Linked DNA regions of Homo sapiens: regions 1, 2 and 4 are each linked to region 3. The links come from fine-mapping of genetic effects on gene expression. A gene starts in region 3. Each other region holds a variant in brackets. All regions are shown on one strand. Distances are between the middles of the regions.

What was found.
Region 1: its variant is fine-mapped to the expression of TAGLN in whole blood (TOPMed, PIP above 0.99).
Region 2: its variant is fine-mapped to the expression of TAGLN in naive CD4 T cells (Schmiedel 2018, PIP 0.91).
Region 4: its variant is fine-mapped to the expression of TAGLN in whole blood (TOPMed, PIP above 0.99).

The regions. Positions count from the first base shown.
Region 1 is chr11:116,803,226-116,811,244 of GRCh38, reverse strand. No RefSeq gene overlaps it. Among named protein-coding and RNA genes, the nearest start is that of LNC-RHL1, 6.9 kb to the left of the region's middle. The variant A/G (reference allele first, on the strand shown) is at 4,222.
Region 2 is chr11:117,509,169-117,517,187 of GRCh38, reverse strand. DSCAML1 (DS cell adhesion molecule like 1) reads left to right here. Exons shown (of 33, transcript NM_020693.4): 8 at 449-721. Among named protein-coding and RNA genes, the nearest start is that of CEP164, 190 kb to the right of the region's middle. RefSeq lists enhancers at 1,433-2,032, 4,785-5,768. The variant A/G (reference allele first, on the strand shown) is at 3,453.
Region 3 is chr11:117,194,816-117,201,276 of GRCh38, reverse strand. It overlaps TAGLN (transgelin), which reads right to left and starts at 1,907. Exons shown (of 5, transcript NM_003186.5): 1 at 1,845-1,907. It overlaps SIDT2 (SID1 transmembrane family member 2), which reads right to left. Exons shown (of 26, transcript NM_001040455.2): 25 at 5,362-5,475; 26 at 3,835-5,273. The coding sequence ends at 5,211. LOC100652768 (a long non-coding RNA gene) reads left to right here. Exons shown (of 8, transcript NR_045215.1): 2 at 1,365-1,426; 3 at 2,489-2,540; 4 at 2,841-2,958; 5 at 3,370-3,491; 6 at 3,873-4,047; 7 at 4,131-4,269; 8 at 5,243-5,664. RefSeq lists a silencer at 2,990-3,284 and enhancers at 2,687-3,350, 4,683-5,182.
Region 4 is chr11:117,135,456-117,143,474 of GRCh38, reverse strand. It overlaps the pseudogene LOC653303. Among named protein-coding and RNA genes, the nearest start is that of PAFAH1B2, 4.8 kb to the left of the region's middle. RefSeq lists an enhancer at 4,861-5,746. The variant G/C (reference allele first, on the strand shown) is at 4,900.

The sequences.
Region 1 (8,019 bases), 390 kb after region 3:
AAGCTCTAACTGCTCCTTAAATAGTTTCAACCAATCTTTCATGTTTTATGACAGCCTCCTCCGTCACCTCTACTTTCAGTAGAAACTGGTGTCCCAATTCAGGACAGTCATATATGGCTGTGCAAGCTGTGCACTGTATCATTCTGAGGCCACCTCCCTCACAGGGTAGACATGACAGATTTGTATATTTATCATGTCAAATTTCTGGCAGACGGCTGTAGAGTGTCTTGAGAAAGGGGAGGCTGTTTCTATTGCACACACAGGTGCAGCGTGGGCTGGCAGGAGCCCTACTATCATCTCTTCGCCTTTTGAGAATCCAGCGGTGTAAGTCAGGCTGGAACTCATCTTTTCTCACTGCCAGCTCATGACCAGCATTCCCAAGGCCGGCTAAATCAGTCACAACTGGTCCATTTGCTTTCTAACATCCAAAATTGTGCTGTGGTCTTTTCTTCCTTTTCCCGATCCCGTCTCTTTTTTTTTTTTTTTTTTTTTTGTTTTTTGAGACAGGGTCTCACTCTGTCGCCCAGGCTGGAGTTCAGTGGCACAATCAGGGCTCACGGCAGCTTCTACCTCCCAGGCTCAAGTGATCCTCACACCTCAGCCCCCTGAGTAGCTGGAACTACAGGTCTGCCATGCCTGGCTGATTTTTTGTATTTTTTCAGTAGAGACAGGGTTTCGCCATGTTGCCCAGGCTAGTCTCAAACTCCTGGACTCAAGCGATCTGCCCACCTTGGCCTCCCAAAGTGCTAGGATTACAGGCATAAGCCACAGTGCCTGGCTACATCTTTTCCCAAACATTTCTTCATTATAGTTTCAGGAGGATTTCAGGAAAAAAAAGTGAAATTAGATGCATGCATTCAATCTTCAATGTTTGTCTGGAAGTCTATACAAGTAGCATTGACAGAAGATTGCTGAAAGCTTTATGGTACATTCATTCCTTTGGAGTCTAAGCCATTGGTTCCAACCTCCCCAGGAAGTCTCCAGTGTTATGGAAAAGGGTTTGTGAACAGGAATGTACTTGGACAGAAAATGTTCTTCCCTTCAAAAATGTATCTTAAGGCCAGGTGAGGTGGCTCACGCCTGTAATCCCAGCACTTTGGGAGGCCGAGGCAGGCGATTGCCTGAGGTCAGGAGTTGGCGACCAGCCTGGCCAACATGGCGAAACTCTGTCTCTACTAAAAATACAAAATTAGCTGGGCTTGGTGGCTTGTGCCTGTATCCCAGCTACTTAAGAGGCTGAGGCAGGAGAATTGTTTGAACCTGGGAGGTGGAGGTTGCAGTAAGCCGAGATTGTGCCACTGCACTCTTGCCTGGGTGACAGAGCAAGACTCCGTCTCAAAAATAAATAAATAAATACACAAATAATAAGAAAAAAATTATCTTAAGAAAATGATCATGGAATGCATGCATTTAGCTATGTGGATGTTCATCACAGTGTTGTTTATAATAAAAAATTAAAACAAGCCAGGCACGGTGGCTCATGCCTGTAATTCCAGGACTTTGGGAGGCTGCGGTGGGCGGGTCACTTGAGGTCAGTAGTTCAAGAGCCTGGCAAACATGGTGAAACCCTGTCTCGCGTGTGACAGTCTCTACTAAAAATACAAAAATTAGCCAGGCATGGTGGTTCATGCCTGTAGTCCCAGCTATTCAGGAAGCTGAATCAGGAGAATGGCTTGAACCTCAGGAGGTGAAGGCTGCAGTGAGCCAAGATTGCACCACTGCACTCCAGCCTTGGTGACGGAATGAGACTCCATTTCAAGAAAAAATAAAAAATAAAAATAAAAGAAAGAAGGAAAAAAAATATGTAATTGACTGAATCCCTCTCTTCGCGGGTTTTCACGAAACCCAAAACCAATGGTGAAGATCTGGCAACCTTGTCATCTGTTAGTGCTTCTATGATTGTGCTCTTCATCGGGTCATGATTTTCTGCGATTATTTCTATTTTCCCCATCCTGTGGTCCTCTCTGCAAGCCCCTCTCTTTTATTACCATTTCAATTTTCATTTTCTGTAGCCTCAAATCTTTGGTGATGAAGAGGAGTACATATAAACAAAACCCAAACAAATAATAATGAAAATCTTTATCTGGAGTTGGCACACCATCACTATGTTGACTCAGAATGTGTTCGGTACATTTTGTGGCACTCAAGTCCACGTCACTGGTCCCACCCAGCTGTTGCACCACCGGCAGGCATTTTTGACACAAACATCTAGCAGTGGGGCATTTCTCGACCTGATGGATCATGGTCTGCGCAGGGTAAACAGGTTGTAGTGGCAAGCCTGAGGACCCGAGGACCTGCTGTCCTGGCTATCACTCAGAACTGGTTCTGCCTATGCAGGAGACAGGAGAAGAGGGAAACTGAGGGGGTTATGTTCGTGCTGAGACAAGGCATGGTGGGACAAGGAACGAGAGGTGATGACTTGGCAGCTGTGCCTCGGCTTGGCTGTTCTTTCCCTGGCTGGCCTTGAGTTACTGTTCTTGTACCCAGATCAGTTAACACATGGACCTGGTACCCCTATATTCCATCAGGCCTCTTTCTCCCAAATCCTAAACCCCCTGGGGTAAGGGGAAGAGCACCTGGCTTTTTACTTAGGACGGTGTTTTCTCCCAGTAGTTAAGTGTTGAGGCTCTTTGTGGTATGGGTCTGGTCTTAGGAGCAAAGTCCTCTCTTTGCTCCCAAGCAGGAGACAGTGTACTGAGCATGGACTTTGGAGTTAGATAGACCTGGAATTGGCCCAGGGCAAGACCTTGGGCAAGAATCTCTCTGAACTCCAGTTTCTCTGTAAATAAAATGAGGATAACAATTCCTACCTTAGAGTATTGACTTGAGCGTTACAGATAAGAAAGGTAAATACTGGGCACAAGGTAGGTCCATAGAGAGCTCATTGTCATTAAATCTTTTCAAACCCAACTGGGCCAGATTCTGGAAGGCAGAGAGCCTTGTGGGCGTGCCCAGGCTGCTTCCCACCCCAACGCGCTAGCCACACTGAGCCCTGCATCATTTCCCCAACCCACTAGATGAGGGTTTGTGTCTTATTCTCTCCAAGATGTGGCAGGGTGCCTGGCACACAATATGTGTCCCACCTCTCTGAGTCCCAACCAGGTTGGCCTCAGTGCCAATTGCTGCCTTCATCAGCTTTAGAGATGTGCGATGCATCATTGATCTCTCTTCTGAACCCGCCATGCCTCACACTTCTGTCAGCCCTGGTCATAGCCCAAAACATAAGGCTCTCTAGCAAGGTCACGGCCTCCCACCCCACTCTTCTTCCTGCATTGTTCTTTGCTTATTCTCTCTATCCAACATCCCGAGAACTATTCCCTCCCAGTTTTCCCACTGCCTCTGGAACACACTCCTCTGCATCTTCAGCCTTCCTAGGTGCCTCCTTCCACTTCCTGTCCTCAACTGGGCTTGGCCTTGGCTCAGGCTGCCCTGCTCCCTGGCTTCCCCTCGGTCCTCCTGCATGGAGGCTGCTGACTCTCAGGTGGGGATGCTGTTCTTTCCATATCAAGTTTGCTGACTTGTTCTTATATTTTTTTTCTGTGATTCCATCAGTTTGAGGAAATGGTATTAAAATCTCCTACCAAATTTGTCAAGTTCTCTTTGGGACTCAGTGGCTTTTTGCTTTACGTATTTTGAGACTATGTTGTCAGGTTCAGAATTGTTTTATCTTCCCAGTGAATTTATTCTTCTTCTTCTTTTTTCTTTTTTTTTGAGACAGAGTCTTATTCTGTCACCCAGGCTGGAGTGCAGTGGTGCGATCTCAGTTCACTGCAACCTCTGCCTCCCCGGTTCAAATGATTTTCCTGCCTCAGCCTCCTGAGTAGCTGGGACTACAGGCATGCACCACCACACCCGGATAATTTTTTGTATTTTTAGTAGAGACAGGGTTTCACCACTTTGGTCAGGCTGGTCTCAAACTCCTGACCTTGTGATCCATCCCCCTGCCCCGGCCTCCCAAAGCGCTGGGATTACAGGTGTGAGCCACCACGCCCAGCCAAATTTCTTCTTTGATCATTAAATAATGATCTGCTTTATCCCTATCAATCCTATCTATCCCTATCAATCCAAATAAGCAAAGCTTATTTGTTCTGATGTTACATTGCATACCTGCTTTCTTTTGATTACTATTGGTCTGGTATGTCTTCTTAAATTCCTTCCCTGGCTCCACTTTTTAACCTTTCTCTGACATTATATTTTAGGTATGCCTCTTATAAATTGCAA[A/G]TAAGTAGAGTTTTTATAAAATCCAATCTGAAAACAACAACAATAGTAAACTGATGTAGCACCTACTGTGTCAAGCATGTTTGTGTGCTTTTTAACCTACAGTAATAAAGCATTATTTCCCACAAGCCCTATGAGGCAAGTATTATCATTATTCCCCTTTTACAGAGTTTGAGGCTGGGTGCAGTGGCTCATGCCTGTAATCCCAGCACTTTGGGAGGCCAAGGCGGGAGGATCACTTGAGCTCAGGAGTCTGAGACCAGCCTAGGCAATATAGTGAGACCCAATCGCTACAAAAAATTTAAAAATTAGCTTGGCAGGGTGGCACATGTCTGTGTTCCCAGGGACTCAGGAGACTGAGGTGAGAGGATCGCGTGGGCCCAGGAGGTGGAGGCTGCAGTAAGTTGTGATTGGTGATTGCACCACTGCACCCAGCCTGAGTGACAGAGTGAGACTCTGTCTCAAAAAAAAAAACGAAAGAAAGAAAACAAAAGAAAGAAATGGAATCACAGAGAAGTTAATTTGCCAAAGGTCACAGAACCAATAAGTGGCAGGACTTCGACCCAGCGGACTAGTCCCAGAGACAATGCCTTGTGGGCTCACTTAATCTATTTAATTTGATAGTGATTACTGTTTTATTTATGTCATATTATTTTGTATTTTCATTTTACTATGATATTTCTTTGCTTCTTGTATCTTCCTGCTTGCTTCTCTGTTGGTTTTGTGTTCCTTTAAAGACTAATTTCACACCTTTTAAAAAATTCAGTTAAAAAGTTCAAACTGCACATAAAGAGTCAAACAGAGCCAGGTGTGGTGACTTATGTCTGTAACCCCAGCACTTTGGGAGGTCGAGACAGGGGGATCACTTGAGGCCAGGGGTTTGAGAGCAGCCCGGGCTACATAGCAAGGCTTCATCTCTCCAAAAAATTGTTTTTTAAAAAAGAGTCAAACAGATCTACAAGTTAGTTTAAAATAGCAGCAGTATCTCAACCCCCACCTCTATTTTTCACTCTACAAAAACAACTACTGTCAACTGTTTTTTTGTTTCGTTTTGTTTTGTTTTTTTTTGAGACAGAGTCTCACTCTGTCACCCAGCCTGGAGTGCAGTGGTACAATCTTAGCTCACTGCAACCTCTGCCTCTCAGGTTCAAGCGATTCTTCTGCCTCAGCCTCCCATGTAGCTAGGATTACAGGCATGTGCCACCATGCCCGGCTAATTTTTGTATTTTAAGTAGAGACAGGGTTTTACCATGTTGGCCAGGTTGGTCTCGAACTCCTGACCTCAGGTGATCCACCCTCCTCGGCCTCCCAAAGTGCTAGGATTATAGGCCACCGTGCCCGTCTGACATTGCCTCTTTAGAAAGAAGTGCAGTTCATCTTCACTGATGAGGGAGCTTTTCTTCATAGAATAACATCAGCTGAAATATATAAAAGAAATAGTAGAATTAGAACATTCTCATTCTGCAACTCTTCTAATGTAATAATTAATTCAGGCAAAAATCTTGAATGTATGCTATGTTCATCAGGTTGCCAAGGTATTTTAAGATGCCAAAGTATCCCAATTCTGTTACTTGTTAATTACAAAGGGAAATAACCTATCTTTCCAACCAAGAGGTCTGCTAGTGACCACCTCACGAAGTGAAAAAACTAAGGATTGCTATTAGTGGGACAAGTAGCCATTGTGTACCTCCTGATATGACATCATGTGAACTTCTCACTTCACCTTTAAGTATTCTTAGCCAGGCACAGTGGCACATGCTTGAAATCCCAGCACTTTGGGAGGCTGAGGCAGGGGGATCGCTTGAGGCCAGGATTTCAAGACCAGCCTGAGCAACATGTCAAGACCCCCACCTCTACAAAAAATTAAAAAGTTAGCCAGGTGTGGTGGTCATGCCTGTAGCCCCAGCTACTTAGGAGGCTGAGGTGGGAGGATCACTTGAGCCCAGGAGTTTGAGGCTGCAGTGAGCTATGATCACACCACTGCACTCCAGCTGGATGACAGAGCAAGACCCTGTCTCAAAAAACAAAACAAAACAAAAAACACCGAAAAAACCCCACAGTAAATTAGAAGAAAGCTGCATAAATTAGAAGAAGCTGATGTGAAATCCTGAGTCCATGGTTCAATTTAGGAGGGACCATCTGGAGAGCAGGGAACCCCCAAAAGTCAGTTTCTTTAGGCCTATTTCCTTGGGCCAGCCAAATTTCTCAGGGAGAATGTTGTTCCATTTTCAATATGGGGAAAGATGGTGAACTGAGGAGTCTTTTAAAAAAATTTATTTTTGAGATGGGGTCTCATTCTGTCGCCCAGGCTAGAGAGCAGTAGCATGATCATGGCTCACTGCGGTCTCTAACTCGTGGGCTCAAGTAATCCTTCTGCCTCAGCCTCCTGAGTAGCTAGGACCACAGGTGCCACCATACCTGGCTAATTTTTGTATTCTTTGCAGAGACTGGGTCTCGCTACATTGCCCAGGCTGGTATCGAACTCCTGGGCTCAAGCGATCCTCCTGCCTTGCCTTCTCAAAGTGTTGGGATTACAGGCATGAGCCACTGTGCCCAGCCTCAAAATTTAATGTATAAAGTTTTCCTTAATTTTTCTTAGCACAAAAACCCTGGCCCCCAACAATACCTAGTTTTCTCCAGGCCGGAGTCCCACTCTTTTACCCTTTTCAGAGAGAATAAGCATCTGGTTTTCTGCTGCTTTGGGGGTACCCAGCCAAGTAGAGTTGAAGAGAACAGCTGCTTCTCAAACAGACTCTCGACCAACTGCCATATTTCTAGTCCCACTGCCACCCACTCTTCCAGAAGAATGTTGACACTAATGTCAGAGCATTTGGAGAGTTTAGTAGTGAAAATCAGGGGCCTTCTTGGCTTTCTCCACTGCTGCTTCAAAATTCATGTCAGGTGTGCCTGTCACCACCGTTTGATCATTTGGAAGCTTTCCAGCTTCCCAAATGTTGTTATTTTTGTCTCCTTTTCTATTTTCCCTTTGGGTTTATGCATTTTGTAAAAAGTGCACTTCAATGCCACGTTATTGAGATTTCAGAGAACAGCAGAGGCTAATGCATGCAATTAATCCACCGTCCGTTACTAGAAGTCAATCGGATGCTCTTTAGTCTCTCTTCCCCATATACTAGTTTAAAAGTTATCCATTCTTTCTATTCGTTTTATGGGTTATCCTTAAAATTTTAATATTCTTGTCTGACCTAACAAAGTCTATAGATAATCAATATCCCTATCTTCCTCCCGAATAATGCAAAGGCTGCTGAATGCTTTCACTTTGATCTCTCCTTTCCCATTTCCAGGTTGCTTCGGTCTGATATTTTAGTTCCTCATTACTTTTAACACCTCCTCCAAAGTAGTCCCTTCATCAATAGATGTTTTTGAGCCCTCCCTACCATGTGATAAGCACTGGTCTAGGCACTGGGAGTACAGTAGGAAATGAGATAAACTTGGCCAGGTGTAGGGTGGCTTACACCTGTAATCCCAACACTTTTGAGGCCGAGGCGGGCAGCTCGCTTGAGCCCATGAGTTCGAGACCAGCCTGGGAAACATAGCGAGACCCCCGTCCCTACAAAAAAATATAAAAATTAGCTGGGCATGGTGGTGTATGCCTGTGGTCCTAGCTACTCAGAAGACTGAGGTGGGAGGATCATCTGAGCCCAGGGTGGTCGAGGCTGCAGTGATTACACCACTGCACTCCATCCTGGGCAACGGTGAGACCCTGTCTCAAAAAACAAACAAACAAACAAGCAAACAAAACCCCCACAAACTAAACTATGTGTAAATACATTTTTGTTAGGT
Region 2 (8,019 bases), 320 kb before region 3:
CCTTTTGGGTACGAGATCAAAATAAGCAAGTAGAATGGAAACAACAAAATCTCTACCTTTCCACTTTAATCCCAAAATCTTAATCTCCCCATAAATGAGGACTTGCCCTCCCAAATCCCAGTCACTTCTTGGTGGGGCTGCAGTTTGGTCCTATCCCTGTCCCACGAGGGGAATGGCTCTTGGCCAAGGCATGTATATACTGCGTCCGTTTGCAACTCTTTGAAGCTAGTAACAGTGAGTCCTGGAGAGACTGTGGGCACCCCCCAATTCCAGCCCCTGTCTGTAGCTTTGTAAAAAGGCATCCCTGTGCCCCCACCAAATGTCCGCCCCCGAAAGTCTCAGGGGCCGAGTGCCTGAGAAGAGCACCGCAGGGTGGTGCCTGGCTGTCCCTGGCTGACAGCAGCACATGCCCTTCTCCTCCTCCTCCTCTCTTCTGACTCCTGCCCAGGCCCACCCAGCATCCGGGCTATGCGGAACATCACAGCAGTCGCCGGGCGGGACACCCTTATCAACTGCAGGGTCATCGGCTATCCCTACTACTCCATCAAGTGGTACAAGGATGCCCTGCTGCTGCCAGACAACCACCGCCAGGTGGTGTTTGAGAATGGGACCCTCAAGCTGACTGACGTGCAGAAGGGCATGGATGAGGGGGAGTACCTGTGCAGTGTCCTCATCCAGCCCCAGCTCTCCATCAGCCAGAGCGTTCACGTAGCCGTCAAAGGTAGGCCTCCCTCACCAGCCAGGGCCCCTGCCCGCCTGACCACCCAGGATGCGTGGGCCTTTCCCCAGCTGGGACTCAGACAACAATAGGCAATCCTGGGTGAACGGAAGGCTGAGCAAGAGAGGCCCCAGCTTGGCATTCAGAAAAAAGGGAGCAGGGCAGAAGACTGTGGGTGGACGCAGGCCATGAGCTCCTCTACATCCGGGGTCCTCCTCGGGCTGCAGAATAAGACAGCACACACCCCAGGTGCATGAGAGGGTGAGTTACAGATAAAGGAGGCAGGCTGCCTTCTGGGAGAGAGGCCAGGTCAGAGATGGGCTGCATGGGGCCTCTGCTGTTGGGATGGAGCCCCCAGGAGCTCAGCGGGCCCACACAAGGAGGCCACAAGCAACAGGAGGCCAGGGTTGACAGAGCACGCTGGGAGCCCTGACCCCCTGTGGGATACACAGTACCCAGGCTGCTTCTACAGGACTGGGAACACCCTTCCACCTGCTAGTACTGCTTGAGGCCTGGAAAGTGCTGTGTGGTGCTTAAAAGCCTCCTCCCTCAGGCCGGGCACAGTGGCTCACGTTGTAATCCCAGCACTTTGGGAGGCCGAGGCGGGTGGATCATGAGGTCAGGAGTTTGAGACCAGCCTGGCCCAAATGATGAAACCCCGTCTCTACTAAAAATTCAAAAATTAGCCGGGCGTGGTGGTAGGTGCCTGTAATCCCAGCTACTTGGGAGGCTGAGGCAGGATAATTGCTTGAACCTGGGAGGCAGAGGTTGCAGTGAGCCGAGATTGAGCCATTGCACTCCAGCCTGGGCAACAAGAGTTGAAACTCTGTCTCAAAAAAAAAAAAAAAAAAAAAAAAAAGCTTCGTCCCTCCTGGGCCCTTGACATCCACCTGGGTGAGGTCTTTGTTTCATGCCTGGTCCTGGGTAGCCGCTCACTAAGTCTGTGGATCAAATGAATGAGTGAATATAAATGTTCAAATACATGAGCATGTGAGTCAATGACAATGTCTCCTTGGTTCTGGGGCTGCGAAGGTCTTCGAAACCCCCAAATACATTCTTTGGGACTGACAGACCTGGAGACTGTCTGGATGGTGTGTGACAGGAGGGTGGCCTGGTTTCTCTGGGGCCAGGCTGGGGAGGTGGATACCCCCAGGCTTGACTAAGGAGAAGCCTGTGAAAACCAGGCTACAGGGGTTGGGTACTGAGTCAGCCACGGCTGTGATGGCTGAAGAGCTTATGTCTCTTCGTGAAGAGCCAGGATGGGCTCAGGCCTGGGGAGGATAAGTGGACAGGCTGTCCTCTGCAGCCTGAGGCTACAGAAGCATGAAGACCTCAGCCTGGGGCTCCGCCTGGGAGGAAGGGAGGTCTGGGGGTCTCCAGCCACCATCCTGGGCTATCGCAGCAGGCTGCGATGGTTATAATGATCTGCCACTGTCACTGCGGCAGGCGCACTGTGTGCCTCTCACATTGCTCCATGCTCCACGTGCAGTGCCATCTTCGACCCCACAGCTGCCCACTCAGCTAAGGCAGGTAACATTTCCTCCCCAGTTTTCGGGGCAGAAAGTGGAGGCATAGAAAAGTTAAGAAAGGCCGGGTGCAGTGGCCCACGCCTGTAATCCCAGCACTTTGGGAAGCCGAGGTAGGCGGATCACCTGAGGTCAGGAGTTTGAGACCAGCCTGACCAATGTGGAGAAACCCTGTCTCTAGTAAAAATACAAAATTAGCAGAGCGTGGTGGCACATGCCTGTAATACCAGCTACTTGGGAGGCAGAAGCAGGAGAATAACTTGAACCTGGGAGGTGGAGGTTGCAGTGAGCTTAGATCGTGCCATTGCACTCCAGCCTAGGCAACAAGAGTGAAACTCCATCTCAAAAAAAAAAAAAAAAAAAAAAAAAAAGAAAAAGAAAAGAAAAGTTAAGTAAATTGCCATCTGGTGTCAGAATCTTTCCCAGGTCTGCATAACTCCAGAACCTGGGCTCCAACCGAGAATGGCCCCGAGCCAGGGAAAGGACAGGCTGGAGGGAGGACCGTTTGCTCCATGCTCTGCCTTAGGAATAAAGACATAGAGCTTCTGGGACTGCCAGGGAGGGTGTGGAAGAGACAAGAGTCCTTGAGAACTCTGAGGGCCCTGTCACCTGGGGGCTTCCCTCTCCTGAGCATCTGTGTCACAACCCAGGGCAGTGGGGAGGGGAAGCTGGGGAGAACCCCCTTTGTATCCCCAAGGGAAGAGAGGGAGGAATAGCGTTGACCAGGGGAGGAGAGCTAGCAGGAGGCCCATGGAAGGAAGAAAAAGAGAAGAGGGGTCCAGGCCTGGGAAGGGGCTCTGGCATGGGGGGAAGGCCCTGGGGACCCCCTGGCTGCTGCTTTGCCCAAGACTGGAAGCAACATGGAACACACACACTATCGGCAGCAAGAGGGACATATGGGAAGAGGAAGGGTTTGTGGAGGACCCTCAAGCATGTGATATCACTGGACATCCGGTGGAAGGGCCTGGTGGCCAGCTGGAAGGACTGAACGTGGCAGTGGAAGGCTGGGTGGAGACTTCTCCCCCAGCTCCTGCCATCAGTGCACAGGAGCCGAGTCACAAGCCTGTGTGCCCAACACCCATCACAGTGCCAGACAGTGTGTGCTTTGAACTGAAACTGAGACATTAGGCTGAGTTGGAGTGACTTACTAGGAAACCTCACTTTGAGCCCAGGAAAATGGACTTTTTTTTTTTTTTTTTTTTTGAGAT[A/G]GAGTCTTGCTCTGTCACCCAGGTTGCAGTGCAGTGGCGTGATCTCAGCTCACTACAACCTCCTCCTCCTGGTTTCAAGCAATTCTCCTGTCTCAGCCTCCTGAGTAGCTGGGACTACAGGCGCACGCCACCACGCCCAGCTAATTTTTGTATTTTTAGTAGAGATGGGATTTCACCATATTGGTCAGGCTGGTCTCGGACTCCTGACCTCAGGTGATCCACACACCTTGGCCTCCCAAAGTGCTGGGATTACAGGCATGAGCCACCGCTCCCGGATGAAAGTGGACTGTCAAAGTCTACTTTGAGAACTTACTAGGAAACCTCACCGTGGCCATCTGAGGTCTGGGAGGAGAGAGGAGACCCTCACAGCCAAACACCCATTTCCCTGCTGTTGCGAGGGAGCCATGTGGAAGGGCATCCTGGCCACTTTCTCTGCCCAGCCCAGGGGCCTTGCCGTACCACCAGGGACCTAACAACCCCCAGCCCACATCCCCGCCCCTGTCATCTGGGACAAATCAGCTTGGTGGCTGTGTACACAGCTCAACCTGCCTCCTTTAAGCAGCATCACGGGCCGGGCCGCCTGTATCCATTTCCCTTACAAGCAGTGGACCGAGAGTTTAAGTGTAAACATCACATATTAAAACATCTAACCTTTGCTCCACTCCCTGCGCCAGCCCTCACTGGCAAGCATTTGGTCGGGTTTGTTGGCTTAAAAAAAATAATAACGGGTGCAGCGGGCCTCAGAGGACTCGGAACGTCCTGAAAGCTGCTTCTGCTCATCAATTATTCAGCCCCATTCAGGGAGTGATCAGTCCTAATGAATTGAATCTGATGCATTCCGTCTCGGCGACTCGCTGGGCCTGTTGTGATGGTGCTGAGCGACAGTGTCTCTGCAGCCCAGGGAGAGGGAGGGAAGTGGGGGGAAGGGGAGGGGTGTGTGTGTGTGTGTGTGTGTGTGTGTGTGTGTGTGTGTGATCCTAGAGGACAGAGCCCATGCCTTGGCCACGTGTGAGTCCCCAGCACCCAGCATAAGCTGTGCATAGCAGGCATGTGTGTGTGTGTGTGTGTGTGTGTGTGTGTGTGTGTGTGTGTACACACGCTTGCATGCACACCTTCCCCCTTCCCCACCCTCAGGGTCTGAAAAAATCCCAGAAATCCAGCCCTGAGGCGGGTGTAGTCACCTGTTTTCTCTCTGGACCAAGAAGCAGCATGGGTGTGAGGGGCTCTGGGACGTGCCCCCACCACTCCAAAAGCTCAGGCCCCCTCATCCCCATTTTTTCCCTGACTCCCTCTCCCACCTCATTAGAATGCGCTTTTGCAGAAGAACCATCAGAGCTGATTATGATCACGCTGCTTGATTAGCGGATGCGCTGTTCCAAGAACTACCCAAGGAGGGGGGTGGAGGAGGTGCCCGTGGGCATGGCGGGGGCCCTGACTTGGAGGGGGAGAAGGGTGTGGGCCTGGGGGCAGCTCTCCAGACCCCACTGCTGCTGCCCGACTAGGAAGTGCATCCCACTCAAGGTTCAGAGCAGAGAGCTAGAAAGTAGAAAAGGGCAAGTTGCGGGGGCAGGGATGGTGGGGACAGAGCACCGGAAGTGTGAGATAAAACTGGAAGTCTCCCACCCCAGCTCTCTGTGGGGCCAAGGGTCAGTGGGCAGGGTGGGGCTGAAACCCATGCTGCTCCATGAGCCGGAAAAACAACTGCTGACTCCATTCCTTCTGGGACTGCTTGTCTTCTAACGAATTTTTCTAACACTAAGCTGCGAACAGCAGCACACGCCCAACATGCCTGCACATGTGTGCAGAGACCTGTGTGTGAGCACTCGTGCGTGTGCACCCTGGTACGTATTGCATGCACGTGCAGCCAATTAACACATTAGCCCATTCACACTTGAGCACACATACGTAAACATGCATGCCAGCAGTTACACATACGCAAGTGTGTTGTCCACCAGGGCCCTCCCGTAAGGCAACATTCCTGAGCCCAAAAAGTGGCTGCAGGTGGGACCATATGAAATATTGCCCAAGGGAGCCTGCTGTGTTCCAGTAAAGTGGGAGGAGCAGAGAGGAGAGAGGGTGGAGGGTGCTTTGAAGGCTGTGTGTGCCTTGGCATATGTGACACTGGCTGGCAGTGGAGAGCCAGGCTGCAGGGATGGCTGGTATTTGTCTCTGGTCATCCGGAGAAATCCTTGGCAGGATGCTAAGAGGAGAGCACACAGATCAAACCTAGATTTGGTGACTTTAGGGCCACCTGTAGCTGAAAAATAATGTAGCACAAAAGCATCTCTGGGCATGCAGGCTGAATGTTTAATTAACTAGGAAGGCAGGGCTGCAACTGGGGCCCCTTTGCATTGGCTCCGTGAAGAAACATCTCCATTCCTACATCTGAGCTTCCGAGGGCTTCTTGAGCCAAAACAAGGCCAAGAGGTGCTTTCTGCCCATGCTCAGCAGGACCAGGACAGGGAGGTGGTGCCAGGCTTCTGTGGAGGACAAGTGGAAGAGGGACATACTCACCCACACACAAACACCCTCTCTCCCAAATGCCCATGTTCCCTCCTCCCTCCCTAATTTTTCCCTAGCTGTTCAATGCTGAGCTTCAGCACTGCTCCACCCAGCCTCTGCCGTATGCCTGGGAGCATGTGCCAGAGACCCTCTCCCACCCTAACGAGTAGGTTGGGGGTTTCTATGATGATAAGCTTAAGGGAGAGTCAGCCACCTGGCCAAGTGCCTGCTACTGGTGAAGGTGGAGATTTGGGAGGAACCTCACTGGGATCCACAGGAAAGGGGCACAGCAGGCTCCCTAGGAGGAGATGGCCTGCATGCCATTTGGGGGAGGAACACCAAGGAAGCCACTGCCAACAACCTTACTTCCTCAGCCAAGGGAGCCAGTAACAAAGGAGGAAGCAAACTCCCGTGGGACAGACAGGGCTCATGACGATGGTAGTGGTGATGAGGATAATGACCACGAATGTCATTCATTCAGTGACATCTACTGTGCCTCCACTAGATTCCAGGCACTATTTTAGGTTCTATGAATACAGCTATGCTCAAAATAGACAAAAATCCCTGCCATCAGGGAGTTTACATTTTAGTGAGGAAAGGGATCCTACGGTAAATACCCCAGAGATGTCTCCTGTCAAACAGGAGAGAGGCTGAGAGTGCCAAGGAGACGGGGTTTGCAATTTCAAATAAGGCGATCTGGGATGGGCTTCCTGAGAAGAGAGGGTTGTGTAAAAACTTAAGTCAGCTGTCATTATTCCCAAAATATGGGACTTGTTTTAACTAGAAAATCAGTGTCTGACTTTAGTGATTAGTTGGTTCAACCGCTCCATTTTGCAGATGAGAAAACTGAGGTTAGACTGGATGGTGATGAGGAGGTGCCTTGCCCACAGTCACTTAAATGGGTAGCAGAGTCTGGAACCGGGTGTTTTGGGTTCCAGGCATGGCTAGTGCCCCATCTCCGTGCTGCAAGGGCAAAGAAGCCCAGACTTCCCACGGCGCACACTCTGCTAGCAGGTGCAGTAAATAAAAGGCTCCATCTCAAAGAGAGATGATGAGAGACACCATTAAATGTTTCTGAGCTGGGCTGGTGGTCAGCACGCCTTCCTCTGTGCAGCACTCCCAAACAAGTGGCCATAAAAGCTTTATGGTGACTGGACACTGAATGGCCTGCCTCGACCACTGTGTCTTCTCAGCCACTCAGGCCTCTGCCTCTTCACCATTGCAGCACCTTGCTAAAGATGACTGTGGCCAGAGCAGGGCTTCTGGGGAGAAAGCCCTGGGTTGTGAGGCATTCATGCCCCCTACATCCAGCTGCCTGCTAGGGACACGCTGGGACTCGGGGGCAGATCTGTAGGCTGGACTCCACAGTAAAGAGGGCCCAGGTCATCACCAGGGTGCAGGGGGTCAGACCCCACCTCCGGGAGGATGGCTTTCCCAGAAATGGAAATGGCCAGGCACACATGCAGCTACTAGCCCTGAGCACTGGAGAGGGCGCCGCTGACTCACAGGTCAGAAGGCAAGCCCCATTTGGACAGCCATGTACATATATGGAGGAGTCCCCACCCTGCTTTGGAGACCCCACTCACAGCACTCCTAGTACCGAATGAGCTGGTGGAGGAGCCATGATCCCTGGGCTCTCTTCCCCCTCCAGGCTGCCCGGTGTGTGTATTGACCGGATGTGAGTGGCTAGCCTGGAGTACCAGCCATGCATCGCACCTGCCCATCCCCCAGAAGCAGGGTTGGAGAGGAGCGAGGAGCCTGCCTTGGGCCTCTGGGAGGTCATCTGGTCATCTGCCTCCCAACAGCCCTCTGGGAGCGCGGGACCAGCCCAGCTGCATGTTTAACTCCCCAGGATGGATGTTGGCTACTTCTTCTTCAGTGGCCTCTCGGAGCTGTTGATGTTATTCAGAAGACCAGAAGGAATGACAGCCCCTTGGCTCAGCCTCCTCCGTCTCCTTCACCCCATGTATTGTTTGAAAGCATGTGTGTCCTTTAACTCTCAGCTCAAATTCCACTCCTCCATGAAGCTGCAGTCACCCCCAGCCGATGGCATCGCCCTCTGCTT
Region 3 (6,461 bases):
TCCTTATGTGTAAAGTGGGGGCAGGACCACTTCTGAGGACCCAGTTCTCTGAGCACTGGGGATGAGGTGGGCTCCTGGCCCAGCCACCCCTCTCCCTGCCAGTGATGCCAGAGACCCCAAAGGCAGAGTGCTCTGTTCTGCTGTTCAGCTACAAACAGCCAATCCCTCCCTTCACCCTGTGTGTCCCACCCCCGCTCCCCAACCACCCAAGGACTCCTGCACAAAGAACTGTGGTCCAAACCCCCAAGTCAGCTGGGACCAGGTGATTTTGGTAGCCCTGCATCCTGGCTTCCATCCACCCCAGCCTCTGTCTCAGCCTTTGCACCACCATCCCAGACAGGCATCCACCTTCTGTCTCTGGCCCTGCTTCTACCCCCACTCCACCTGCCCTCATGTCTGCCTTCCCCTTCTGCACCCCTGCTGGGCTCCTGAGGAACAGGATGGAAGGAGAGTGTGTCCCCTACCCCCAGCTTCCAGTCTCAGGAGGGTCAGAACAGACAATACAGGTCAAAGCAGCAAGGCTAAGGGTGACAGGTACACAACGCTGCAGCCCCCAGATCTAGAGACAAGATTAGGATTTCGGTCAGAGGGGGATGAAGCACACACCATCCCCACTCCCACCCAGCACCACCATCCTTCCCCTTCCTCCTCCTGGGTCAGGGTCGAAAAGTGGAGAATCCCCAGAAATCCTTTAGAGTCCTCTGATGAAGCCTCCCGAGTCCTGCCTTCGAGCCAGTGGGGAGGGGGAGAGGAGGATGATTACAGGGCGGCCCCCCCAGGGGCATCTCAAGACACTCCCAGGACAGCATGGACAGGCATGGACCCTCCTGCCCTGTGGCTCCTGCCAGGACCCCTCCCCTGAGCTGCCCAGTGGGTGAAAGTGGGCAGTGGAGAAAGAAAGTCCAGGGTCAAACGGGAAGGTGGCACCCCCTACCAGCAGAAGCCCAGAAACACGAGCAGAGCCAGGGGCCCCTGCAGGGCTGCTGTGCCCCTTCTCTCTTCCCAAATAGGAGTGAGCACACCTGGACCTCTGAGAGGGCAGGAGGGTGGCTCCTCTCCACTCCACGGACAAACAGGAGTGGCCTGGCTACATAAATGTGTGCCATCCTCACTGCTACCTTTGGAATAGCAACTTCGAAAGGGAACCACCCTTTGGGAAAGACCAAGGGTCCCAGGCCTGCCCCGCCTATCACTCCAAAGCTCCTCCTTGGCAGTACCCGCCCCCCACCCCTCTGCTACAGTGGGGGTGACCTCCCACTGTCAGACAGTGGAAGGGGCTGCTTGTCAGAAGGACAGGCCTTCCGTCTCCACTCTTTGCCCCTGACTGGAATACAAGAGTTCTGTGGCCCTTCACATTGTCACAGGGCTATCGCTGCTGCTCAGGCCCTGGGGACCCGCCAGAGTGGGACACCGTGCTCCAACACAGGTGCGTTCACACACTCCTCACCTCCTTGGAAGTTCTCCTGGAGGGGCAACAGACAGTAGAGCCTTGGCCTAACCGGCCGGCGCCTGCACCCTTACACACACCTTGTGGATGTGGCTGGCTGAGATGGGGAGCCTCCCTCTCACCCCGGTGGTTTCCATCAATTCCTCTGCACTAGCCAAGTCATCCGGGGCATTTCAATGAGCCCGGGGCTGCCCAGTCTGAGAGAGATCCAGGACGCTAGTGATCCAGCCCACCCTGCCTGGAGCTTGGGCCCCCATGCTGACTGAGAGGGTGGGTTTCCCTAGCCAGGGAGCTGGAGCTGGCGCCTGGGACCTCAGGAGAGCCTGCCTGAAATGCACCCACTGCTCCTGTCCAGCTCCAGCCCAACTTCCCTCCAAGCCCCAGCCAATGCACTCACAAGGCTTCCTCAGGGCTCGCAGGAAGGAGTGAAGACTTGTGTCTGGGTTCGGACAGACAGGATGGGGCGCTGGCTGGGTGAGGGGTTTAAAGGGCTGCCGCCGTGGTGATGTCAGCCTCCCCCACTGGCTCGCTCCTCGGCCCCCTCCCTGCTAGAGGAAGCCGGCTCCGCTCCCCACCCCCGGCTCCCCCAGTGACTCCACACAGGCTCCATATTTGGGGAAAGACACCAAGTTGGAGCAGTCTACCGGGGCTGCCGAGACATTCTCTGCATGCTTTGGAGATGGAGCGGGCCGGGGCGGGGCACGCTGCCGGCGGGGAGCCGGCCCGGGAAAAGCCTTTTATGGACAGGACCCTGCCCGGACTTACGGCTGCTCCTACTTCACTGTTCTCTGGCCCCGAGTTTGAGAAGAGGGGGAGTTCAATAGAGTCTGGCTGGAGAGAGGGGCAAGGGGCTGGGGAGCCGGGAATCCCAGGGGTTTGTGGGGACAAACCAGCCACCCTCTCCTCCTGGGGCTTTTAGCTCTGATGGGACATGGGATCCAACCTTTCCTGAGGACCTACTCCACACCAGGCCCTTTGCAGTGCTCTCATTGAATACTCACAGCTACAGTGTGAGGGTGTAATTACATCCCCATTTTATAGATGAGGAAACTGAGGCCCCGAGTGCGTCTTCCTCAAGGCCACATGGTGAATGGTAAGTGGCAGATCCTGCACACCTCTGCCAACCCGCATGGGTGCAGGAGAGGTGGTCAGACCCACCCTTTCAATTGGACCACCCTGCTCAGGTTGAGAAGAGCTTTCAGTGCAGGTAGGTCTTGAGTTATATGCTTTAGTTGGGGCTGGGATTTGAGGGTTCGGCAGAAGCTGAGTCCAACTCCGGTCCCCATCCAGTGGGCAGTGTCAATAAGAGGGTCTATAAGGCCTGGCAGGGCCTGAGACACTAACGCAGGAGAAGGAGGCTCAGGAGGCTGGTATCATCCCTTCCTCCCTTTAGGAACAGTCCCTACCAGCCTGGAAAACAGACCAGCCTCTGTCACTCCAGAGATAACCCACTCTCATCTTGCTCGTACCTGGCTTCAGGGATCTTGGGGAGAGATAAGAGGTTAAAAAAGGTGAGACTAACAGTGGGATCCCTGGACTGACTGCTGTGGCACTCCCCTGCAAGGGCATCTGGTAGGGAAGACCTAACACTCTCCACTACACACACACTGCCACACCCGGCACCACCCCTAGCCAAACAAGGCCCTAGGAGGGGGCTGCCAGGCCTGGCAGAGGAGGGGCCCGCCTCCGCAGTTCTGCCCACTGCAACTGGACATGCTCCAGAGCCCAGGGGAGGCACAGCCATAGCACCTCCCAGTGGCGCCTGCAGGAAAAGCAGGAAGAGGAGTGGGCCCTGGCGAGGGGAAAGCCCACTCCTCCATCCCTGACCCTGCAGACCTCTGGTTGTGTTCTGAATTCAACAGATTCCTTGGCCCCCAAATCATGTCCTCCTTAGCCGACTGAAGTCTAAATGAATCTTTCAGGGACATATCAAAACTCCCTCCTCTTGGAGCCTGCCCAGCTTTCATCACCCTCCTGCCTCGGCCTGCACGCTGAGCGGATTATAAACGCCGCATCAGGGAGCACTGCTTGGGCCTGTGGCTTGGTGAGCTGGGGGCCGCTCAGGTCAGAGGTGAAGTGAGCCTCAGTCTGGTGGGCGGGGCCAGGTGGGCAGAGACTGCTGTTCCTGGGGAGGTAAGGAGGGATGTCTGCAGTGGGATGGCGTGGGAAAGGCTTTTCCAGGAACTGGCCTCTGTCCAGCACAGTGCCCCGGTAAATGTTTACTGAATTAATGCTGTTGCTGGAGGGACAGGAAAAACGGGAGAATCAAGGAATTGCAGTTCCCAGTAGGGCCATGGCTTGAAGAATGGGGAAATGGAAGACCTCCGCCTCTCCCCTCATCCTCAACAGCTCCACCCAGAGGGAGTGCAAACAAGGGCCCCAAGAACTGAGTCTGGTTGTTTATTGAATGCAAATTCATTCATAGAAAACGGAAATGCAACCATAGCATGGAGACGCTCTGAGAAAAGATCCAGACCCACCTCATCTCCCAGCCCTTCAAGCAGAGCTATAAAAACAAGTTTGGGAGAAAAACACATTCCCATCCCCAAAGCAGAGGCCCCGCCTGAGCTCCCCCATCCTCAGCATCTGGGGTGGACCAGGTGGGACGAAGGGGATCCAAGGACCAGGGTGGCCAGGGTGCCCAGAGCTGGGGCAATTCTTTGTAAACTCCAAGGTTTCATAGGTATGTGTGTGCATGACTAACACAGAACTTGCCTGAAGACTGGACGGAAACTTAGAAGCCAGCCCTGGGTCCTAGAGCGAGGCTAGGACTGGGCACGTAGAGGGAAACAGCACATCCCTTCCTGAAGCCCCTTTCTAAGGTAGGCACTGGGGTGCCCACAGCTGTGGAGGCAGAACGGGCTGAACTCTGTATCATCCCTCCTTTGCCCCTGGACATTCTTGGGCAGTGTCAATGGCACTGAAAGGCCACCAGCTGGGGTTTGGCAAGACTAAGGGCCTGGAAAGAAGGAAGGGAAGGGGTGAGGCGCTTCTCCCTCCAGTCCTGGTGCTGGCATCAGTCTGGGAGCTGATGGGATGAAGAGGTGACCTCTGAATTCAGCCTCTTGAATCAGAAGGCGGTTCTCAAATTGGGCTGAGCGCATTGCTAAAGAGCCAGCCCTGAGCACAGGTCAGAGGGAAGAGAATACGCACTGCCCCAGGCCCCTTGCAGGCCTTAGCACCAAAAGTCTGGCACCAGCTGGCCAACCCCCAAAATCTCATACCCCCATCCATCCTGGCTGACTGGAATGGGCAGTGATGGCAGCCAGGGACAGCCCAAAGAGAACTGGGGCCCTGATACAGGACAGAGATTCAGGCCCCAGACTAGGCCCTGGAGTGGGAGTATGGGAGGAAAAAGAGGCCTTAGGTCCCAGGCTGGGGCATTGTGGGGAGGAGGACGGGCAAAATGCAAGGCATGAAATGGGGAGGGTGTCCCTTCCATCCTTCCTCTTGCAAAGGGACAAATGGAGAGCCAAAGGACAGGGGCCCATGGAAGGCCCCAACACTGAGAAGAAAGCAGCAATTTGGCCAACATCTGGGGGTTCCAGGGGAGCAGGCCTGCTCCTCGGCAGAGGGCAGCTGCAAGGTTCCATGCCACCCCATGGCTGTCCCAGGCCAAGCCTAAGCTAGACCTGGCTGTCCTGCTGCCATCCAGTGCTGGGCAGCGGTGCTGGGACTCATCCCCACAGCACGACAGAGTGACCGGTCTATGACACAAAGGAGCTCAGGGCCCCTTGAGGTGAAGCGAAGGGCCCAGCTCCTGCTAGAAGACATAGATCTTGTCCCGCTGCACAGTATCCAGGTCGTCATCCAGTGTCAGCAACACCTGGGGTGTGGACGCCAGATCAGCCACAGAGAAGGAGGCAGCTGCTACCTTCACGTACCCACCCGGCTCGGCCGGGAGGCCCGCTTACCAGGAAGGACCCGAACATGGCGATGGAGGAGAGGAAGTGCCAGATGTCGTGGTCGTCAAAGAAGTCGAGGAGGATGCAGTCCCGGTTGTGCTCCCTCGACTCTGCAGGGGTTTTCTTGGGGAGCAACAAGAAAAACTGCCGAATGACCCTGCTCTGGCAGGGCAAGGGCCAGACCCATCTGCCATCTTGCTCCTGGGCACCCCTCTCTCCAGCCCCAGGCAGGACAGCAGCAATTCTGACCTGTCCCTTGTCCTTGTCCCTACCCCTTCCCGATCTAACAAATGGCCTTTGGTTACAAACTTCTCCCTGAGTTCACTGGCTTCTCTTCCCTTTTCTTTCACTCTTACCCTCCTCCTTCCTTCTGATTCTCTTCCCTTGACCTAAGAGCACAGGGTTGCAACAACCTTGAAGGCCTTCAGCTCAGAGATGGCAGAAGGCCTTCTCACCCACTTCCCGGCCTTGGACTCCGCCCTTGCTCTAATCTTTCTGCAGGCTCATTGTTTTTTCCAAAGCACTACTGTCAGGTTACACACCTGCTCCGGGACAGTAGCCATAACCTGTGGCACTCAAGGTCCTCCCTGCTCTACTCATAAGCTCTATCCCATAAGCTCATCCAGGCTGTGTCTGTCTGTGCTACATGCTGAGGCCACAGACATAACCAAGACCTGCCCCACCCTCAGGGAGCTCACAGTCTGCCTGGCTCCCAAATGAGTGCATTCACTGACCTCCAAATCTGCCCCTGTATCATTACTAAGGTCACAGTAGGTCTGGGCCATGGGGCTCTTCTCCATTACCCAAGACTTTTTTTTTTTTTTTTTTTTTTTTTTTTTGAGACAGAGTCTTGCTCTGTTGACAGGCTGGAGTGCAGTGGAGAGATCTCAGCTCACTGCAACCTCCACCTCCCGGGTCCAAGCCGTTCTCCTGCCTCTGCCTCCCGAGTAGCTGGGACTACAGGCGCCCACCATCACGCCCAGCTAACTTTTGTATTTTTACTAGAGATGGGGTTTCACCATGTTGGCCAGGATGGTCTCAATCTCTTGACCTCGTGATCCACCCGCTTCGGCCTCCCAAAGTGCTGGGATTACAGGCGTGAGCCACCG
Region 4 (8,019 bases), 59 kb after region 3:
TGTCAAGATATGTCAAGTAATTTTTCTTTTTTTTTTTTTTTTTTATTCAAGTTCTAGGGTACATGTGCACAACGTGCAGGTTTGTTACATAGGTATACGTGTGCCATGTTGGTTTGCTGCACCCATCAACTCGTCATTTACATTCCGTATTTCTCCTAATGCTATCCCTCCCCCAGCCCCGCAGTCCCCGACAGGCCCCCGTGTGTGATGTTCCCCGCCCTTTGTCCAAGTGTTCTCAGTGTTCAATTCCCACCTATGAGAACATGCGGTGTTTGGTTTTCTGTCCTTGTGATAGTTTGCTGAGAATGATGGTTTCCAGTTTCGTCCATGTCCCTGCAAAGGATATGAACTCATCCTTTTTACAGCTGCATAGTATTTCGTGGTGTATATGTGCCACATTTTCTTAATCCAGTCTATCATTGATGGACATTTGGGTTGGTTCCAAGTCTTTGCTATTGTGAATAGTGCCACAATAAACATACGTGTGCATGTATCTTTATAGCAGCATGATTTATAATCCTTTGGGTATATACCCAGTAATGGGATGGCTGGGTCAAATGGTATTTCTAGTTCTAGATCCTTGAGGAATCGCCACACTGTCTTTCACAATGGTTGAATTAATTTACACTCCCTCCAACAGTGTAAAAGTGTTCCTCTTTCTCCACATCCTCTCCAGCATCTGTTGTTTCCTGACTTTTTAATGATCGCCATTCTAACTGGCATGAGATGGTATCTCATTGTGGTTTTGATTTGCATTTCTCTGATGACCAGTGATGATGAGCATTTTTTCATGTGTCTGTTGGTTGCATAAATGTCTTCTTTTGAGAAGTGTCTGTTCATATCCTTTGCCCACTTTTTGATGGGGTTGTTTGTTTTTTTTCTTGTAAATTTGTTTAAGTTCTTTGTAGATTCTGGATATTAGCCCTTTGTCAGATGGGTAGATTGCAAAAATTTTCTCCCATTCTGTAGGTTGCCTGTTCGCTCTGATGGTAGTTTCTTTTGCCATGCAGAAGCTCTTTAGTTTAATTATATCCCATTTGTCTATTCTGGCTTTTGTTGCCATTGCTTGTGGTGTTTTAGTCAGGAAGTCTTTGCCCATGCCTATGTCCTGAATGGTATTGCCTATGTTTTCTTCTAGGGTTTTTATGGTTTTAGGTCTAACATTTAAGTCTTTACTCCATCTTGAATTAATTTTTGTATAAGGTGTAAGGAAGGGATCCAGTTTCAGCTTTCTACATATGGCTAGCCAGTTTTCCTGGCACCATTTATTAAATAGGGAATCCTTTCCCCATTTCTTGTTTTTGTCAATTTGTCAAAGAGCAGATGGTTGTAGATGTGTGGTGTTATTTCTGAGGCCTCTGTTCTGTTCTGTTGGTCTATATATCTGTTTTGGTGCTAGTACCATGCCGTTTTGGTTACTGTAGCCTTGTAGTATAGTTTGAAGTCAGGTAGCGTGGTGCCTCCAGCTTTGTTCTTTTTGCTTAGGATTGTCTTGGCAATGCGGGCTCTTTTTTGGTTCCATATGAAGTTTAAAGTAGTTTTTTCCAATTCTGTGAAGAAAGTCTTTGGTAGCTTGATGGGGATGGCATTGAATCTATAAATTACCTTGGGCAGTATGGCCATTTTCACAATACTGATTCTTCCTATCCATGAGCATGGAATGTTCTTCCATTTGTTTGTGTCCTCTTTTATTTCACTGAGCAGTGGTTTGTAGTTCTCCTTGACGAGGTCCTTCACATCCCTTGTAAGTTGGATTCCTAGGTATTTTATTCTCTTTGTAGCAATTGTGAATGGGAGTTCACTCATGATTTGGCTCTCTGTTATTGTCTGTTATTGGTGTATAGGAGTGCTTGTGATTTTTGCACATTGATTTTGTATCCTGAGACTTTGCTGAAGTTGCTTATCAGCTTAAGGAGATCTTGGGCTGAGACAATGGGGTTTTCTAAATATACAATCATGTCATCTGCAAACAGGGAAAATTTGACTTCCTCTTTTCCTAATTGAATACCCTTTATTTCTTTCTCTTGCCTGATTGCCCTGGCCAGAACCTCCAACACTATGTTGAATAGGAGTGGTGAGAGAGGGCATCCTTGTCTTGTGCTGGTTTTCAAAGGGAATGCTTCCCGTTTTTGCCCATTCAGTATGATATTGGCTGTGGGTTTGTCATAAATAGCTCTTACTATTTTGAGATACGTTCCATCAATACCTAGTTTATTGCGAGCTTTTAGCATGAAGGGCTGCTGAATTTTGTCGAAGGCCTTTTCTGCATTGATATAATCATGTGGTTTTTGTCATTGGTTTTGTTTATGTGATGGATTACGTTTATCAATTTGTGTATGTTGAACCAGCCTTGCATCCCAGGGATGAACCCAACTTGATTGTGGTGGATAAGCTTTTTGATGTGCCACTGGATTCGGTTTGCCAGTATTTTATTGAGAATTTTCACATCAATGTTCATCAGGCGTATTGGCCTAAAATTCTCTTTTTTGTTATGTCTCTGCCGGGCATTAGTATCAGGATGATGCTGGCCTCATAAAATGAGTTAGGGAGTCTCTTTTTTTCTATTGATTGGAATAGTTTCAGAAGGAATGGTACCAGCTCCTCTTTGTAGCTCTAATAGAATTCGGCTGTGAATCTGTCTGGTCCTGGATTTTTTTTTGGTTGGTAGGCTATTAATTATTGTCTCAATTTCAGAGCCTGTTATTGGTCTATTCAGAGATTCAACTTCTTCCTGGTTTAGTCTTGGGAAGGTGTATGTGTCCAGGAATTTATCCATTTCTTCTAGATTTTCTAGTTTATTTGCGTAGAGGTGTTTATATCATTCTCTGGCGGTAGTTTGTATTTTTGTGGGATTGGTGGTGATATCCCCTTTATCATCTTTTATTGCATCTATTTGATTATTCTCTCTTTTCTTCTTTATTAGTCTTGCCAGCGGTCTATCAATTTTGTTGATCTTTTCAAAACACCAGCTCCTGGATTCATTGATTTTTTGAAGGGTTTTTTGTGTCTCTATCTCCTTCAGTTCTGCTCTGATCTTAGTTATTTCTTGCCTTCTGCTAGCTTTTGAATGTATTTGCTCTTGCTTCTCTAGTTCTTTTAATTGTGATGTTAGGGTGTTGATTTTAGATCTTTCCTGCCTTCTCTTGTGGGCATTTAGTGCTGTAAATTTCCCTCTATGCACTGCTTTAAATATGTCCCAGAGATTCTGGTACGTTGTGTCTTTGTTCTCATTGCTTTCAAAGAACATCATTATTTCTGCCTTCATTTTATTATTTACCCAGTAGTCATTCAGGAGCAGGTTGTTCAGTTTCCATGTAATTGTGCGGTTTTGAGTGAGTTTCTTAATCCTGAGTTCTAATTTGATTGCACTGTGGTCTGAGAGACAGTTTGTTGTGATTTATGTTATTTTACATTTGCTGAAGAGTGCTTTACTTCCAATTATGTGGTCCATTTTAGAATAAGTGTGATGTGGTGCTGAGAAGAGTGTATATTCTGTTGATTTGGGGTGGAGAGTTCTGTAGATGTCTATTAGGTCTGCTTGGTGCAGAGCTGAGTTCAAGTCCTGGATATCCTTGTTAACCTTCTGTCTTGTTGATCTGTTTAATATTGTATGTCAAGTAATTTTTCAAGTAACTTGTGCTGTCAAGTGGCACTAAGTGTGTATTACTTTAGGCATATATAATCCAAGATAATTTTGTCCTCATATAAAATGATGTTTACATTGCGAATTTACCTTGGAATTCTCTTGGAGCTGCTCACACAGTATACGGCATACCTGTAGGTGCTCAGTAAATATTTGTTGTTCTGAGGGTTTTCTTAGAAAGAATTCACGTTTAGAGAACTCAAATGATGGTATTAAAGAGGCAGCCCAGCCAGGAGCGGTGGCTCACACCTGTAATCCCAGCACTTTGGGAGGCCAAGGCTGGCGGATCACCTGAGGTCCAGAGTTTGAGACCAGCCTGACCAACATGGAGAAACTACGTCTGTTCTAAAAATACAACATTAGCTGGGCGTGGTGGCACATGCCTGTAATCCCAGCTACTTCGGAGGTTGAGGCAGGAGAATCGTTTGAACCTGGAAGGCAAAAGTTGCAGTGAGCCGAGATCCACCATTGCTCTCCAGCCTAAGCAAGAAGAGCGAAACTTCACCTCAAAAAAAAAGAGGCGCCCGGGCGCAGTGGCTCACGCAAGTAATTCCAGCACTTTGGGAGGCCAAGGTGGGCAGATCAAGAGGTCAGATCAAGAGGAGATTGAGACTGTCCTGGCTAACACGGTGAAACCCCGTCTCTACTAAAAAATACAAAAAATTAGCCAGGCGTTGTGGCGGGTGCCTGTAGTCCCAGCTACTCTGGAGGCTGAGGCAGGAGAATGGCACGAACCCGGGAGGCGGAGCTTGCAGTAAGCCGAGATCACGCCACTGCACTCCAGCCTGGGCGACAGAGTGAGACTCCATCTCAAAAAAAAAAAAAAAAATGACACAGAACACAAAAGCTTGCCCAAGATCACGCCACTGCACTCCAGCCTGGGGGACAGATCGAGACTATGTCTCAAAAAAAAAAAAAAAAAAAAAGAGAGGCAGCCCATTTCCAGGCGGATAGTGTTAAGGGGAAAAAAAAAGAGGATGGAGGCCAACCCAAAGGGGGCGCCAATCCCCTGTCCAACACCTTCTCACCAAAAGCTCCCGTTTGGCTGGAGGCAGACCCTGTGGCTCTGACCAGACTTCTCTGGCAGCAATCCTCCGCCATTTGTATCTTAAGAAGGCCCTCACCCTCTTTGAGTGGAGTCAGAGGATGCCTCAGATTCCAGATGTAAGCATCAGAACTGCTTTCTGTCAAGAGCTCCCTAATTTTGGGAAAGAAGAGCCTGTCCCACACTGTCAGGCCCTGAGGTCAGCAGATCT[G/C]CTCCTCCTTCCCGTGCGGTACGTCTAGGTGCTGATGAGGGCAGTCCAGGGCGCTCTTGTTCTGGGACAGGCTCCAGTCCCCTTGCTCCAGCAGGTCTGGGGCAAGGAGGTCAGAGGTGGTGGGAGGGCCCCTGCTCTCTGTTTCCACTTCGTCTGGATCCTTGCTGCTGCAAAGTGGCACTGATTCTAGCTCTGTCCCTTCCTCCTTGGCTTTCTGGCTTCGATAGGGCCAGTGGCAGGGTCCACTCATACAAACTTGATTGGAAGCCACATTCCTCTGGTTCACATATACTTCCAGCATGTAGTAAACGGTCCAGAAGACGGTGAAACAGCCTACCAGCACCAAGGTCTGGGGCCGAGGCAAGCACCTACGTGAGGCACTGTTTCCCGAAGCCTACAGCCTTTCTCAGTCCAGGACAATGAGCTCAGAAAGTCTTTTTCCTTCTAGGGACTGCCTTTTTCACCCAAACTGTTCCCTCTGCCCCCTCCCCCGACAAGGCCTGTCCTGTAAGAGTTAGGCTAGCAGGGTAGGAGCAATGCTATGAAACCACTGCTGGGACCCAGGTCTTCCCAGTCCTTCACCCCGCAGGTCACCCTGAGAAACACACTAAGAACTCCATCCCCCAGACAGGACAGTCCCATCTACCCGCAGCTTGAGTCTTGGCCCTAGTACCTTGAGGGTGTTGGGGGTGATGGTGTAACCATCTTCCTCAGGAATTTTCAGCCCCGGTGGGCAGGGCAGGGCGAAGTCATCGTGCAGGTATTTTCCACTCATGGCACTCTCTAACAGCCTGTGGAGAAGAAAAGAGGTGAGGATGCCCCACTGACTATGGTTCCTATACCATCTGCCCTCACCCATTTTCCTGCCTTACAGGTGAAGACAGGGAAGCCCCACAGCAAAAAGGAGAGGCCCAGACTGTGAGTTCCCAGCCCGGGGCTCCATCTACCAGCTTGACGCTGGAACTGGGAAGCACAGCTGGGGTTCAGAGGGCGATGGGCTCCCTAGGCAGCCCTTCCCCTGTGACTGGCCTTCCCTCTGACACATGCGGCTTTACCCACCTTTGTCTGTCCCTGATGTCTACTGCACTCCACACAGAGCCATATAGGGTCAGCTGCCATTGCCGGAGGATGCCGACCTGGAATGACTCATCCCCTAGGGCAGCAAGGGGCAGCTCGTGAGCCACGCCCCTCTGTCAGCCATGCCAGACAGCAGAGGCCCTGCCCGCCCTGCCACCCAAAGGGGCTCAGGCCACATGGTCTGCTCCAGGAGCTGCCTCACTGTGTCCCACTGACCCCAGGTTCTGCAGAAGGGCCTCACTGGGTGCCCTTAGGGATGGAAAGGGTTGAAAGGCTGTACTCCAAAGCAGAGTCTTGCTTTTCTCTCCCGTATTTTGGGGGTTCAGCTGGGATTAGAAAAAAATGTCTTTCCACCAAATTAAAGAAAGCTTTGAAAACCACTGGCCTAGAGAATACCTAACTGACTGGAGGATGGGAGGGTGGAGCTCAATTTCCAGTCTATAGGCTGATACTAAAGATATTCACAATTCATGGATATTGTGGCCTTCACTGATATGGTGACCTTCCACAAGTCACCTCAAACCTCTGGGCCAGTTTAAAAAAAATGGTGAAATGAGTCCTGCCCTTACCTGCCTACCGGGGCTTGCCGAAGGATGGTTATACGTAAAAGGACTTGAAATGTGGTTTCGACAAGGACTTTTTGTTGCTATCCTGAGGAAAGATGGATGGGTCACTCCTCCAGGGAATATGAGAGGTAGTATAAATGAACAGTTTCAGAGAGCAATGCCCATTTCACGGATGGGCACACTCTTGGCATCAACTCTCTTGGTCCAATGGCAACCCTATATATTGCACACGGGACACTTTCTGTGGGGACTCTGAGATGCAGAGGGACCAGATAACAAGCAGGAAAGGTAGGGCCTGGTGTGAGGGCACGAGACTCACCGACATCCCTGATGACAAGCCTGTAGGTCCCTCGGGCTCTCTCCCCCCAGCATCGCACAGTGGAGAAGGTCCAGTCATTGAAGCCGTTGGGATCCCTGAGGAAAGAACACAGCAGAAACAGGTGGAAGGCGTGGGCCAGAGAGCTGACCTTCCCCCAGCAACACTTTCTTACTGTAGTAGCCGTGGAAACAACCTGGGAGGGTGCCACGAGGGCTTCTCAGGTGCCCCTTTCCCCTGGGGTCTCATGGAAGGAGGAAATTGTGTTAACGTGGTGTGGTGGAAAAAGCAAGCATGGAGCGCGCACAGGCTTGGAGTCCCACGGATCTAGGTTTATTCTTGTTCTCTTGGGCACTTACTAGCTCCATGACTTGTTTTCTTTTTCTTTCTTTTTTTTTTTGGAGACAGGGTCTCACTCTGTTATCCAAGCTGGAGTGCAGTGGCATGATCACAGCTCACTGCAGCCTTGACTTCCTGGGTTCAAGTGATCCTCCCACCTCAGTCTCCTGAGTAGCTGGGACTACAGGCATGTACCACCATGCTCGGCTAATCTTTAAATTTTTTGTAGAGACAGGGTCTCACTTTGTTGCCCAGGCTGGTCTTGAACTCCTGAGTTCAAGTGATTCTCCTGCCTTGACCTCCCAAAGTGCTGGGATTACAGGTGTGAGCCACCACACCCAGCCAGTTTCCTCATTTGTAAAAGGAGGTTACAAAGTCTAATCTAGGGGGTTCTTAGAAGGATTAGAGAACATGTATGTGAGGTGCAGGGCCTAGCGCTTGAAGAAGGTATGTGACGAAAGGCTTCCAGCCGCCAGGGATAGCCAGTGCCACAGTAGTTTAGGACAGTGCCAGGATCCACTTCTTCCATTTCTTTTCCCTGGAAAGGCCCTTGCTGAAAAGGTTGCTCAGGCCTCGGGCAGGTGTACATACGAGTCCATGCTGCCGGGGGTGCCGATGAGGGACATCATGCCTCTGGGGCAGAACAGCTTCAGCTCCAAGCTGCCGCGCCGTGGGTGAGTGATGGAGACTGTCACTGCCACATGCTCCAGGGTCTTCAGCCCTGACATCTCCAGGTCCATCCTGCTGACTGTAGAAAGTCAGGCTGGGCAGCTGGGAAACCAGCCCACAAACACGCCTTCACTTCACCCCCACGTACACAAA